2 linked regions of the Homo sapiens genome follow. The protein of the gene in region 1 binds, or shares a complex with, the protein of each later gene. Each region holds a gene or a part of one and is shown on either strand. Other genes may lie near its edges.

Region 1 (7,458 bases):
TCCCAGCTACTCGGGAGGCTGAGGCAGGAGAATCACTTGAACCCGGGAGGCAGAGCTTGCAGTGAGCCAGGATCGCGTCACTGCACTCCAGCCTGGGCAAGAGAGCGAGACTCTGTCTCAAAAAAAAAAAAAAAAAAAGCTTAAGGTTTGCAATTTGTCCTTAACCTATTCAAAGATTTTTCAAATTAAAAAGTTAAAAAAACAAACAAAAAAAAGGCTGGGTGTGGTGGCTCACGCCTGTCATCCCAGCACTTTGGGATGCTGAGGCCGGTGGATTGTTTGTTTGAGACTAGCCCGGGCGAGGTGGTGAAATCCCATCTCTACTAAAGATAACAAAAATCGGCCAGGCGCACTGGTGTGTGCCTGTAATCCCAGCACTTTGGGAGGCGGAGACAGCAGGATCAATGCCCAGGAGGTTGAGGGAGACTGTACCACTGCACTAAAGCCTGGGTGACAGAGACCCTGTCTCAGAAAAAAAAAAAAAAAAAAAAAAAGGAAGAAAAAAAGTGGCAAAGGCAGGGCCAGGCAGCACTGTGTCTATACACCAGCCAGAGGATGCTGGAAAGCAAATGCCAATGGATGCCCCTCAGCTCAGAGGCTGACCCCACGCCACTGCAGACACCAGACCCCAGCCCCTGGGCCTGGCTCCAGAATGCAGAGTTGAGGAGGGAGACTTTGCTACCCACACACATCCCGACAACCATGTCCCTAAGCTGTGGGCCAGCAGTGCCCGGCATAGCTCTATTGAAACATCCAGGAGGCCAGGCACGGTGGCGCATGCCTGTAATCCCAGCACTTTGGAAGGCTGAGGCGGGTGGATCACCTGAGGTCAGGAGTTCAAGACAAGCCTGGCCAACATGGTGAAACCCTGTCTCTACTAAAAAATACAAAAATTACCTGAGCGCAGTGGCGCGTGCCTGTAATCCCAGCTACTTGGGAGGCTGAGGCAGGAGAATGGCTTAAGCCTAGGAGGCGGAGGTTGCAGTGAGCAGAGATTGCACCACTGCACTCCATCCTGGGCTACAGAACGAGACTCTGTCTCGAAAAAAACAAAAGAAAAAGCAATATCCGGGAATAAACGCCTGCTACCCACGGCAAAACACAGCAAGCGCAGACCGGATGCACGCAGGGCCCTGAGGGGCAGAGGCCTCGTGGAGCCGACCCTCACCCCAGCACCTGCTCCTGGCCCTTCTTGACGCCATCGAGAAACCCCTGCAGCTCCCGCGCCCTCTTGCTGTCCACGAACCGCTCTCGGATGCAGGCGTCCAGGCACCAGGTGAACTGCAAGGAGGAAGCACGGTCGGGACCAGCCCAAACCTCCCAGGATGACCAGAGACCCAGGCCCCAAACACAGCTCCAGGCCCTGGCCTCTTGTTCAATCATAGCTGCTGCGGGGGGCGGCAGCAGGCACCAGTCATCCTGACGGTGCAGTGTTCCCCACACCTCCCGGCCAAAGCAGCAGGGTCAGGACAGTGGTGGAGAAAGTGATGATGTTTCTTTCTAAAAACGGACTCCTTCATGGCACCCTGAGTGTGGGGGTGGCCACTGCAGCACTCCAAGCAATGGAAGCCTCGGAGGGTGACTCCCAAGTCCCGGAAAGATGGTCTCAGGGCTGGAGGGTCCGTATGAAGGGAAACCCCGTTCCTAGAGCACTTGGTACCTGGCCAACAAGCAGCACCCAGGGTTCTGGGGAAGGGGAGGGCCACAGGCCAGGTGGAAAGATGGGAGGAAGCTGGGGCAATGGTCAAGGTCCAGCCCGTAGGTCATACAGCCCTCGGGAACACAGAAAGGGCTGGACGGGGCAAGGGAGTCCCCGGGAACGGCCAGGTCTCTGGCTCAGATGCAGGGGACTAGCCTCCTTCCCCCATCAGGGTCTGGAGAGAAGCCAAAGGGCCAGCACACAGGACAGAAAGACCAGAGCCCAGGAAACAGGCATGGGAGAGAAGGGCGCCCAGGTGGTCCCGGGCCAAGCCAAACCCACGGAGAGGAGAGGAGCCAGGAGGGCCAGGGGGAAGGAGGGAGGGCAATGCTACCTTCAGGAGGGGCAGAGGGGGAAGGAGAGAGGGCCGGGGAGTTGGGGGGAAGGAGGGAGGGAGGGCAGCGCTACCTTCAGGAGGGCGGAGGGGGAGGAGGGAGGGCCGGGGAGCGGGGGAGAAGGGAGAAGGAGGGAGGGAGGGAGGGCAGCGCTACCTTCAGGAGGGCAGTGGGGGAAGGAGGGAGGGCCGGGGAGTGGGAGGGAAGGAGGGAGGGAGGGCAGCACTACCTTCAGGAGGGTAGGGGGGAAGGAGGGAGGGCAGTGCTACCTTGTGGCACGGGTCCACGGTGCAGATTTCACCCACGTCCAGGTCGTGCAGGGACATGAGCAGCTCAGCCCGCAGCGTGCAGTAGTGCACATTCCGCGTGCGCAGGAAGAGCGTGCGCAGAAACTGCAGCACCATGTCGTACAGCTTCACGTTCTTCCCCACCATCCGCGTCAGCCGCTGCACCACCTGCAGCAAGAGGCACTGTCAGGCCCCCAGACCGTCCTGGGCTCCGCCAGACACAGGGACGTCACGCCCGGCGACAGCGCGGCCCTCTCTCTGGACATCTGTCCTTCCTACTTTTTGGCAGAAAACATTCCCTCCTCTCATTAAATATTGGCCCCCAGTCTGATGGTAGCAGGTTCTGTTATTTTTATTTTTTTTATTACTTTTTTTGAGACAAGGCCTTGCTCTGTTGCCCAGGCTCGAGTGCACTGCTGCAACTGTGGCTCACTGCAGCCTTGACCTCCTGGCTCAAGTGATCCTCCTGCCTCAGCCTCCCAAGTAGCTGGGACTACAATTGCATGCCACGACACCCAACTGTGGGCAGCAAGCCACCCAGGTGCCAAGGCAAGAGACCAAGGGCACGAGCTGTTCCAGTATAACAAAATATGCAAGAATAGTTATATTAGATATAGATCATAGATATGATTATATTTGAATATTAGTCATTAGCTTGTAGCAATTACTCTTTATTCCAATATTATAACAATCCTCGCTCTACAATCATAATCTAGGAAAAACCAGGCCATACAGAGATAGGAGCTGAGGGGACATAGTGAGGTGTGACCAGAAGACAAGAGTGCGAGCCTTCTGTTATGCCTGGACAGGGCCACCAGAGGGCTCCTTGGTCTAGCGGTGACGCCAGCATCTGGGAAGACGCCCGTTGCCAGGCGGACCAGGGTCTAGCGGTAGCGAAAAATGTGAAGGAACAACACCCGCTACTTAGCAGACAGGGAAAGGGAGTCTCCCTTTCCCCGGGGGAGTTTAGAGAAAACTCTGCTCCTCCACCTCTTGTGGAGGGCCTGACATCAGTCAGACCTGCCCGCAGTTATCCAGAGGCCTAACCGTCTCCCTGTGATGCTGTGCTTCAGTGGTCACGCTCCTTGTCCGCCTTCATGTTCCATCCTGTACACCTGGCTCTGCCTTCTAGATAGCAGTAGTCAATTAGTGAAAGTACTAAAAGTCTCTGATACGCAGAAATAACGGCGTAAGCTGTTTCTCTCTCTCCTCTCTCTCTCTCTCTGCCTAGGCTGCCAGGCAGGGAAGGGCCCCCTGTCAAGCGGACACGTGAACCACGTGACCTTACCTATCATTGGAGATGGCTCACACTCTTTACCCTGCCTCTTTGTCTTGTATCCAATAAATATCAGCGCAGCCTGACATTCGGGGCCACTACCAGTCTCCGCGTCTTGGTGGTAATGGTCCCCCGGGCCCAGCTGTCTTTTCATTTCTTTGCCTTGTGTCTTTACTTCTACAATCTCTCATCTCCGCACACGGGGAGAAAAACCCATCAACCCTGTGGGGCTGGTCCCTACACCCAATCAATTTTTTTTTTTTTTTTTTTTGAGACGGAGTCTTGCGCTGTCACCCAGGCTGGAGTGCAATGGCAAGATCTTGGTTCACTGCAACCTCCACCTCCCGGATTCAAGCTATTCTCCTGTCTCAGCTTCCCAAGTAGTTGGGATTACAGGCGCCGGCTGCCATGACTGGCTAATTTTTTGTATTGTAGTAGAGACGGGGTTTCACCATGTTGCCCGGGCTGGTCTTGAACTTCTGAGCTCAGGTGATCCACCCACCTCGGCCTCCCAAAGTGCTAGGATTGCAGGCATGAGCCACACACCTGACCCAGTTTTTTTTTTTTTTTACTTTTTTTTTTTTTTTTTGAAACCGAGTCGTGCTCTGTTACCCAGGCTGGAGTGCAGTGGCGTGATCTCAGCTCACTGCAAGCTCCACCTCCCAGGTTCACACCATTCTCCTGCCTCGGCCTCCCGAGCAGCTGGGACTACAGGCACCCACCACCACGCCCAGCTAATTTTTTGTATTTTTAGTAGATGCGGTTTCACCATGTTAGCCAGGATGGTCTCGATCTCCTGACCTCATGATCCACCCGCCTCGGCCTCCCAAAGTGCTGGGATTACAGGCGTGAGTCACTGCGCCCAGCTTTTTTTTTTGCGACTGAGTCTCACTCTGTCGCCTAGTACAGTGGCGCAATCTTGGCTAACTGCAACCTCCACCTCCCGGGTTCAAGTGATTCTCCTGCCTCAGCCTCCTGAGTAGCTGGGACTACAGGCGCACACCACCAGGTCTGGTTAATTTTTGTATTTTTAGTAGAGATGGGTTTTTACCATGTTGGTCAGGCTGGTCTCGAACTCCTGACCTCGTGATCCACCCACCTCTGCCTCCCAAAGTGCTGGGATTACAGGCGTGAGCCACCGCACCCGGCCTAATTTAGCTTTTTAAAAGAGAATCGGGCTGGGCACGGTGGCTCACACCTGTAATTGCAGCAAATTGGGAGCCCAAGGTGGGTGGACTACCTGAGGCCAGGAGTTCGAGAACAGCCTGGCCAACATGGTGAAACCCCATCTCTACTAAAAATACAAAAATTAGTCGGGCGTGGTGGTGGGTGCCTGTAATCCCAGCTACTCGGGAGGTTGAGGCAGGAGAATCACTTGAACCTGGGAGACTGAGGTTGCAGTGAGCTGAGATCACACCACTGCACTCCAGCCTGGGCAACAGAAGGACACTACGTCTCAAAAAAAAAAAAATAAAACAAACTAAAATAAAATAAAACAAAATATAAAATTAAAATAAAATAAATAAAAAAAATTTTAAAAAATAAATTTTAAAAATTAAAAAAAATAATAAAATAAAATAGCCGGTCTCAGTGGCTCACGCCCGTAATCCCAGCACTTTGGGAGGCCGAGGCGGGTGGATCATGAGGTCAGGAGATCGAGACCATCCTGGCTAACATGGTGAAACCCCATCTCTACTAAAAATACAAAAAACATAGCTGGGCGTGGTGGTGGGCGCCTGTAGTCCCAGCCACTCGGGAGGCTGAGGCAGGAGAACGGAGTGAACCCGGGAGGCGGAGCTTGCAGTGAGCCGAGATTGCACCACTGCACTCCAGCCTGGGCAACAGAGCAAGATTCTGTCTCAAAAATAAAATAAAATAAAATAAATAAAAATAAAAATAGGCCAGGCACGGTGGCTCACGCCCATAATCCCAACACTTTGGGAGGCTGAGGCAGGTGGATCACAAGGTCAGGAGATTGAGACCATCCTGGCTAACACTGTGAAACCCCGTCTCTACTAAAAAAAAAAATACAAAAAATTAGCCGGGCATGGTGGCAGGCGCCTGTAGTCCCAGCTACTTGGGAGGCTGAGGCAGGAGAATGGAGTGAACCCGGGAGGCGGAGCTTGCAGTGAGCCAAGATCGTGCCACTGCACTCCAGCCTGGGTGACAGAGCAAGACTCTGTCTCCAAAAAAATAAATAAATAAATAATAAAAAAATAAAAAATAAATTTTAAAAAGTAGTAAAATAAAACAAGATAAAAATATATAAAATAAAATAAAATAAAAATAAAAGAGAATCAACCTAGGACTAAGCCGACCAAGCCGACTGATTTCCCTTACAGACAGAAATCAGTATAGGCAGCACCAAGTCACCAGAAGAGACAGGCGATAGGAGAAAGGCCTGGGAAATGCAGGGCACCCCACAGTTAGCAGAGGGGTCCAAGGGCTCTGTCTGACAGCAATGGAACAAGAAAAAGGCCCATGGAGGACCTAACTGGGAATAAACAAACAGGGAAGGGAGGACAGAGGTGGCACTGCCACCCCCAACAAGCCTGCTGCTGCCCACGCACATGGTCAGGAACCACGGCCCGAAGGGAACCCAGAGCCACACTAACTGCTCAGCGTTTGAAGTGCAGTAGTTCAGATGGGCTCTAAGCATGAAAGACTCACCAGGTTTCAAATCTTAGTGATCCTCCCGCAAAAAGCATTATAGCTCAATATTTTTTTTTTCCTTTTGAGACAGGATCTCTCACTCTGTCGCCCAGGTTGGAGTGCAGTGGCTCAATCATACCTCACTGCAGCCTCAATATCCGAGGCCTAAGCAATCCTCCTGCTTCAGCCTCCTGAGTAGTTGAGACAACAGGTACGCACCACCATGCTTAGCTTAATTTTTTTTTCTTGTAGAGACAAGGTCTCCCTTTGGTCTTTAACTACTAAGCTCAAGCGATCCTCCCACCTCCGCCTCCCAAAGTACTAGGAGTACAGGCGTGAGCCACCGTACCCAGCCCAATCTTTCACATGAATTACATGCTGAAAGATAATATTTTGGATATACTGGACCAAAGAAAACATTAATGAAGTTGATCTCATTTTTTTTTCTTAATGTGGATGCTGAAAAATCTTAACTTATAGTTCGCTTTTTCCACTGAACAGTGCTAGTTTAAAGTTGGTTAGGGCCGGGCGCAGTGGCTCACACTTGTAATCCCAGCACTTTGGGAGGCCAAGGTGGGCGGATTACCTGAGGTCAGGAGTTCAAGACCAGCCTGGTCAACATGGTGAAACCCTGTCTGTACTAAACAAAAAAATAAAAAAATTAGCCAGGCATGGTGGGGCGCGCCTGTAGTCTCAGCTACTCGAGAGGCCGAGGCAGGAGAATTGCTTGAACTCAGGAGGCAGAGGTTACAGTGAGCCGAGATTGAGGCCCTGCACTCCAGTCTGGGTGACAGAGCAAGACTCTGTCTCAAAAAAAAAAAAAAAAATTGGCTAATTAAAAAATCTCACAACCAGTTGTGGTCGCTCACACCTATAATCCCAGCACTTCAGGAGGCTGAGGTGTGCAGACAGATTACTTGAGCCCAGGAGTTCGAGACCAGCCTGGGCAACACAGCGAAACACCAACTCTGCAAAAAGTATACAAATTAGCCAGGCATGGTGTCACACACCGGTGGTCCCAGCTGCTTAGGAGACTGAGGTAGGAGGATTGCTTGAGTCCAGGAGGTCGAGGCTGCAGTGAGCCACGATCACACCACTGTACTCCAACCTGGGTGACAGAGTGAGACCCTGTCTCAAAAAAAAAAAAAAAAAAAAAAACCCCAACAAATCTCGGCTAGGCATGGTGCCTCATGTCTGTAATCCCAGCAC
Region 2 (7,405 bases), on another chromosome or scaffold:
TAAGCCACAAAACTGACGTCTCTCTCCTGCTTAAAGATTCCCATCTCCTTCAGGAAAAAACGCCCCAGCTCTAGCAAGAGCGTGCCCTTCCCACTTCCCCTGTCCGTTCTGACCTCTCACCACTCCCCATTTGCAATCTGTAGCAGGACTCATCTATTTGCATGTCTGCAGCTCTTAGTTTCCACCATCCAGACTGAACATCACGGTGGCCTCCTTACACATCTTCCTACCTCCCACTATGTAACATGGCATCAGGCGAACAGAATTTGGGTCACCAACTATCTTTTAAAATCCAGTTCTTGCCACCCTCCTAACACCTTTCCTAACTTTCTGTACCTCTTCCAAGCAGAGTCACAGAATAAACATGAAATGAACGTCTGGTCCACCCCCCTCATCCATGAGAGCCCACTGGTGTCAGTGGGCCAAATTAGGATCATGATTAAAATTCCCCAAACATGAGACTCCCCAATCTCCCATCAGTGGGGTCTAGGTCTGACTGCACAAACTTGGGCAAATAACTCACGTGCTTGGTCTATAAAGTGAAGGTACTGATTAGATGGCCCTTATATGCCCCAGTTCTAACACTTTATGACTCAAAGCCTCAAGGTGAGGCCGGGCACGGTAGCTCACACCTGTAATCTCAGCACTTTGAGAGGCGGAGGCGGGCAGATTACTTGAGGCCAGGAGTTCGAGACCAGCCTGGCCAACATGGTGAAACCACATCTCTACTAAAAATACAAAAATTAGCCGGGTGTGGTGGCACCGGCCTGTAATTCCAGCTACTTGGAGAATCACTTGAACCCAGGAGGTGGAGGTTGCAGTGAGCCAAGATGGCACCACTGCACTCCAGCCTGGGTGACAGAGTGAGACTCCGTCTCAAAGAAAAAAAAAAAAAAAAAAGGCCGGGTGCGGTGGCTCACGCCTGTAATCCTAGCATTTTGGGAGGCCGGGGCAGGCGGATCACCTGAGGTCAGGAGTTCAAGACTAGCCTGGCCAACGTGGTGAAACACTGTCTCTACTAAAATACAAAAATTAGCCGGACATGATGGCGGATGCCTGTAATCCCAGCTACTCAGGAGGCTGAGACGGGAGAATTGCTTGAACCCAGGAGATGGCAGTTGCAGCGAGCTGAGATCAAGCCACTGCACTCCAGCCTGAGCAGCTAAGCGAGACTCTGTCTCAAAAAAAAAAAAAAAGAAAAAAAGGCTCAAGGTGATATACTAGATGCCCCAAACACCAACCTACCACTAAGCTAATTCACACCTTCTCATCTGGACCACTTTGGTAGTCAGCAATTTGACGAAGTGGCAACGGAGGCAAAGGATGTGGGTTTGGGTCCCCTCTCCTTCCTTTATTAGTTTCATGACCTTGGGCAGGTCAGTAAGTCTTTTCGTCTCATTTTCTACACTTACCAGATAAGTAGGGTAACACCCAACTCAAAATCCTGTGTGTGGAAGGGGATAACGCATGACACACATGGCCCAAGCTCTCAGTTAGCTAAGTCTGACTCTATCCACTCCACCCTAAGCCTCCAACACTGTGAAATGATCCAACATGCAAATCTACTCGTGTCACTCCCTGCCCCAAACTCCTGAACAAGCCATACCATTCAGCAGCTCTCCAAGGATCTTCAGAACCTGCTCCCTACTGACCTCCTGCCACTGCTTCCACCAGGCAGCTAACATCACAGGGCTTCTTTCAGTTCCAGAAACACATCGCCCGCCTTGGCATTTTAGACCATGGCTCCGAAGCCGCCATCACACCACCACCCATGTTTATCAACGTAAGCCCCACTTCATCCTTTATTCCCTTATAATACCACTTCAAAATGCACCAGACATCCCCAATCTTGATTGTTGTTAAAAATGCAAGTTCCTGGGCCACGAGCAGTGGCTCACGCCTGTAATCCCAGTACTTTGGGAGGCAGAGGTGGGTGGATCACCTGAGGTCAAGAGTTTGAGACCAGCCTGGCCAACAAGGTGAAACCCCCTCTCTACTCAAAATTTTAAAAATTAGCTGGGCATGGTGGTGGGTGCCTGTAATCCCAGCTATTCGGGAGGCTGAGGCAGGAGAATCGCTTGAATCCGAGAGGCAGACGTTGCAGTGAGCCGCGATGGCGCCATTACACTCCAGCCTGGGCAACAAGAGCGAAACTCCACCACAAAAAAAAAAAAAAAAAAAAAAAAAAAAAAAAATGCAAGTTCCCAGGCTCCCGTCCAGACCAACTGTTGGGCCGTCTCCAGGGGAGGGACGTGAGAAGCTACATTTCAATCATGCGCCTCAGTTGGGTCTTTAGAGTAAGGTGGGGACACACTGTCCAGACTAGAGCTACCTGCCCTGGCTCTGCAGTCCCTGTCCTCAGGGTGGAACAGTGATCCCTCCTGGGCTTCCACCCCAAACCCTGGAAGGTCAAGGCCCGAAAATCCTTTCCATCAGTTTGCCCAAAAACAGATGAAATCAGCCCAAGGTGCTGAAGAGTACAGTTTATAAAACAGTAAAGCACATGTAGGAATGCCCTAAGTTCTACTTTTTCCTCATGATGCTGCTGTGAAGTTTTTCCACTTTATTTTTGTTTAAAAGTCTGTGAGCTCCGGACCCAACCCTCCACCTTAGCGTTGGTGTCCCGCCCGCCGCGGGGGTCGCAGGGCCGGCGCCGGGCCTGGCCGGAGCGAGGGGGTACTGGGGGCCTCGGGCCGCCCCGCGCCAGAGCCTCCGGCGCCTCACCCCCACCCCAAGGTCCTGCAGGCGAGGAGGCGGGGACCCCGGCGGCCGCGCCGCGGGACCCCGGGCGGGCGGGGGCGGGGCGGGCTGTGCTTGAACCACACGGTGACCGCGCGGGCCGTGCGCGCGCACACCCCCCGCACGCCCGCAGCCTCGCGCCGCGCGGCCTCTCCGGGAGTGGGGCCGGCCCGCCGGCGGCGGAGACGAACGATTCTCTCTAGGGTGCGCCCAGTGCCCCGCCTCACCTGGCCGCCGTCAGCCTCGTCGCCCCACTCGGCCGCGCTCCCGTAGTAGTCCTCGTCCATGATGGCGCCCGGCACGGCCCCCGCCATGCCCTCCCGCGAGCGAGCGCGGCGCATGCGCGAGGCGGGGACGGGCGGGCGGGCGCACGCGCGGCCGCGCGCCTCGGCCCGGGCGGGAGGCGGGGCCTGGAAGAAGGGGCGGGGCCTGGAGGAAGGGCAGGGCCGCGGGCTCGGCACTGGGAACAAAGGGGACCGGCGGAAGGAACGCCCCCAGTCGATCCCGGAGCGATGCCCGGGTGGACCAGGGGCTTAGCTCCGGAGAGAGGTTTCCCACTGGATTCGTGCACAGCCCCTCCCCTGCGGCGCCGGCTCTGCGAGCCCCAGTTTCCTCATCTGGCAGCTGGAAACAAATCCTTCCGGAAGTGTCCAGGACCCACGAAAGTGTTTTAATTTCTTTTAGTTTTGGTAAAAAGTACTAAACGCGACCGGGCGTGGGGGCTCACGCCTGTAATCCCAGCACTTTGGGAGACCGAGGCTGACGGATCACTTGAGGTCAGGAGTTCGAGGCCAGTCTGGCCAACATGGTGAAACCCCGTCTCTGCTCAAAATACAAAAATTAGCCGGGCGTGGTGGCATGCGCCTGTAATCCCAGGTACTCGGGTGACTGAGGCAGGAGAATCGCTTGAACCCGGGAGGCGGAGGTTGCAGTGAGCCAAGATCGCACCATTGCACTCCAGCCTGAGCGACAGAGCGAGACCCTATCTCAAATAAATAAATACATACATAAAAAGGGCAGGGCACGGTGGCTCACGCCTGTAATCCCAACACTTTGGGAGGCCGAGGCGGGCGGATCACCTGAGGTCAGGAGTTCGAGACCAGCCTGGTCAACATGGTAAAACCCCTTCTCTACTAATAACACAAAAATTAGCTGGGCATGGTGGCGGGCGCCTGTAGTCTCAGCTACTCAAGAGGCTGAGTCACGAGAACCGCTTGAACCCAGGAGGTGGAGGTTGCAGTGAGCCAAGATCACACCACCGCACTCCAGCCTAGGCAACAGAGTGAAACTGTGTCAAAAAAAAAAAAAAAAAGAAAAAGAAAAAGAAAGAAAGAAGAAAGAAAGAAAAGAAAAGAAAAAAGAAAAGAGAAGAAAAAGTACTGAATGCAGTGGAAAGTAGCATTTTTAATTTTTTATAAAGTGGAAGATAGGCCCACAAAGCAAAAGTGCCCAGAGCTGACAAAAATCTCTGGAGAAAGGACCTCTCTGGTCGTTGCCAAAGGGAGCAGCTGACGCTGTTGTAAAGCCCGCAGCTCGATTCCCAGCGTGAAGTAGGGGGTGAGAATATGACAGCCTCCTGATGATCACGGAAAGGTTTTTGTTTGGTTGTTGTGTTTTTGTTTTGTTTTAATTTTAGATTCGGTGCGTGTGCAGGTTTGTTACATTGGTATATTGCGTGATGCTTCTAATCCTTTCGGCAACTTTTTCAGCCTTTACCCCCCTCCACACCTTCTGCCTTTTGGAATACCCCATGTCTGTTGTTCCCATCTTTGTGTCCAAATCACAGAAAATTTTAAACAGGGAGATTAACGCCATAAAATCTGGATGCTTTGAAAGGTAACGCCCGTGGCTGAGCGCCGCGGCTCACACCTGTAATCCCAGCACTTTGGGAGGCCAAGGTGGGAGGATTGCTTGAGGCAAGAGTTTGAGACCAACCTGGGCAACATAGCGAGACACCGCCCCCCCCCTTCCCCCGCCCCCAGCCAGGTATGGTGATGCACGCCTGTAGTCCTAGCTGCTCGGGAGGCTGAGGCAGGAGGATTGCTTCAGCCCAGGAGTTTGAGGTTACAGTTTGCTATGGTCGTGCCATTGCATTTCAGCCTGTGTGACAAAGTGAGACCCTGTCTATAAAGAAAAAAAAGAAAGGTAATGCCCATGTCAGTAAGGAAAGAGTATTAGAGAAAAGAGCTCCAGAAGATTGATAATAGTGACTACTTTTGGAGAACTTATCAGGGAATATGTCTTCATTTATTCAACAAATGTTTATTGAGTGTTCCCTAAGTGCCCAGCACTGCGCTGCTCCCTGGAGCTCGGTGAACAAGTTGGACCTGATCCTTGTCCGGGTAGAGCCTACATTCTACTGAAGGAGCTGAATGGGGGGAGGGGGTGGGGGGAACAAATAAGATAAAGACAGAAGGTGATCAGTGCTAGTATTCTGTGATAATAGAATCTTCTTGGGGAGATCAGAGATGGCTGCTGAGCAGCTTACATTTGAACTGAGTCATGTCATGAAAGGGGCAAGCTAGCTAAGACCCAGGCAAGAGCATTTCCAGAGAGCAGAACTGCCAGGGCAAAGGCCAGGCATGCGTACTTGGAACAGAAAGGCCACTGAGAGCGGCACCTGGCAGGCCAAGGAGAAATCTAGATGAGGTGGGCAAGGCAGGGAGGGCCAGATCTTGGGAGGGAGTTAGGTCTGTATTAACTGAGGGCCATCTCTAAGGATTGAATGTAATGAGGTATGCCAAGCACTGAGCAGAGAGCTTGCACATGGTAGGTGCTCAGCAAGTATGCATCATTATGAGGAAGATGAAACGTTTGGATTTTTTTTTTCTTGCTCTGAGCGGGTGAAAGGACATATCTGAATTTTCAAAGGCATTTCTCCTAGCTGAGGGGGCCTTACAGAAGGAAGTGAGAAGGTGAGAATGTAAATTAAGAAGCTTCCGTGAGCATTAATGGAGGGGGTTGCTGAGAAGGAGCTGTGGCTAACTGCTGTGAAGTTGGGGTCAAGTCCAGAGGATACAACAGCCTTGGGGGTGGGAGATGGGGGCCAGGAACAGGGGCAGGGAAGATGCTGCTGTGACCCCCAGCTTGTGTGCCTGGGGATGGCCCATGGCTGAGACAGGGAACCCAGGAGGAGGGCAGGTTTCTCCATGGGATGATAATGAGTTCATTGGGTTGTGCTGAGTTAGAGGTGCCAACAGAACACCCATGCGGAGATGTCCTGCAGGTGGTTGGAGGTGGAAGTCTGCAGCTCCGATTCAAAGGATCCAGCTCCAGCTTCTATTCACAAGATTAAAGTGTATTAAGTTAATGAGTGCCCCTGCTGTTGGCTTGTTTCAGGGTTCATTTTCACTTGCTTTCTCAAAATGTTGGAAAGAATAGATGGCTGTTAAACTCCTCCTACCTCTCCTCTTAGATTTTTTAAAAAATAGTGCCAGAATTGAAAGCGGACCAATTAATGTATGTATAACTAATTGTGCCTACGGAATTGGGGATTATTCAGCTCACTTCTCCTTCAACCAACAGGTTGGTTAATCCATTTATTGTTAAATGGATTAACAACCCGTAATGAAACCATTACATTCAGCCTATAAGTCACAATGATTTAAAAGTAATTGGGTCAGCCGGGCGCAGTGGCTCAGGCCCGTAATCCCAGCACTTTGGGAGGCCGAGGCGGGTGGATCACGAGGTCAGGAGATCGAGACCATCCTGGCTAACACGGTGAAACCCCGTCTCTACTAAAAATACAAAAAAATTAGCCGGGCATGGTGGCAGGCGCCTGTAGTCCCAGCTACTCAGGAGGCTGAGGCAGGAGAATAGTGTGAACCTGGGAGGTGGAGCTTGCAGTGAGCCGAGATCATGCCACTGCACTCCAGCCTGGGTGACAGAGCGAAACTCTGTCTCAAAAAAAAAAAAAAAAAAAAAAGTAGTTGGGTCTATAGGTCTTGCCTCCTGAGATATTGTGGATCTGTTGTTTTTTCCAAAGCCTTGTCTAGATTGTCCAGATTAGCTTGCATTGCTTAAATACTCCTAAAGTCATTTAAGTTCTAAAGTCATTTTCCTGTTTAAGAAGAATTCTGGGCCGGGTGCGGTGGCTCATACCTATAATCCCAGCACTTTGGGAGGCCAACACAGGCAGATCACTTGAGGTCAGGAGTTTGAGACCAGCCTGGCCAACATGGTGAAACCCCGTCTCTTCTAAAAATACAAAAATTAGCCAGGTGTGGTGGCGGGTGCCTGTAGTCCCAGCTACTTGGGAGGCTGAGGCAGGAGAATCGCTTGAACTTGGGAGGCAGAGGTTGCAGTGAAGTGAGATCACACCACTGTACTCCAGCCTGGGTGACAGAGCAAGACTCTGTCCCCTGACCCCCACCAAAAAAAAAGAAGAAAAAGAAGAATTCTGGTGGAGAATTTTTATGAAAATTAGAAGTTGGTTTCACTTAATCCATTGAGGAAATACTTACTGAGTGCCTACTAGGTGTCAGGTGCTGGGATATAGCTGAATCAGAGACACAATTCATCTGGTGCTAATGGCAAAAAAGGAGAAAAGAGAAGCTATCTCTAACAATTTTTTTTAAAAAATGCAGCGACCTCAGAAAGAGGTCAAGAAGTCCTTTCCAGGGAAATTATGTTTAAGCTGAGACTTGTGACTTCAATCTGGAGGACA

The links. The genes of interacting proteins can lie anywhere in the genome.
Region 2: the proteins of NELFB (region 1) and NELFCD are in contact, whole or in part, in a crystal structure (PDB 8JJ6), measured with the Homo sapiens proteins. Residues at the interface, in NP_056271.3 of Homo sapiens: Met49, Leu53, Leu56, Val58, Ala59, Asn60, Gly61, Leu64, Lys65, Leu68, Thr69, Leu75, Ile78, Glu79, Phe81, Gln82, Glu84, Asn85, Gly86, Val87, Leu88, Leu89, Ser91, Leu92, Ser94, Ala95, Leu96, Pro97, Phe98, Leu99; in XP_047296144.1 of Homo sapiens: Arg63, Ile66, Met67, Glu68, Pro69, Ile71, Phe72, Leu75, Ile89, Gln90, Leu92, Ser93, Tyr96, Thr97, Ala98, Val99, Ala100, Gln101, Thr102, Val103, Asn104, Leu105, Leu106, Trp109, Leu110, Gln112, Thr113, Gly114, Val115, Gln121.

The regions. Positions count from the first base shown.
Region 1 is NC_000009.12:137,258,068-137,265,525, reverse strand, and holds part of NELFB (negative elongation factor B), read right to left. Parts: intron 2,490-7,458; coding exon 2,304-2,489; intron 1,282-2,303; coding exon 1,169-1,281; intron 1-1,168. UniProt on the Homo sapiens protein: Essential component of the NELF complex, a complex that negatively regulates the elongation of transcription by RNA polymerase II.
Region 2 is NC_000020.11:58,976,931-58,984,335, reverse strand, and holds the start of NELFCD (negative elongation factor C/D), read right to left. Parts: upstream 3,027-7,405; coding exon 2,967-3,026; intron 1-2,966. UniProt on the Homo sapiens protein: Essential component of the NELF complex, a complex that negatively regulates the elongation of transcription by RNA polymerase II.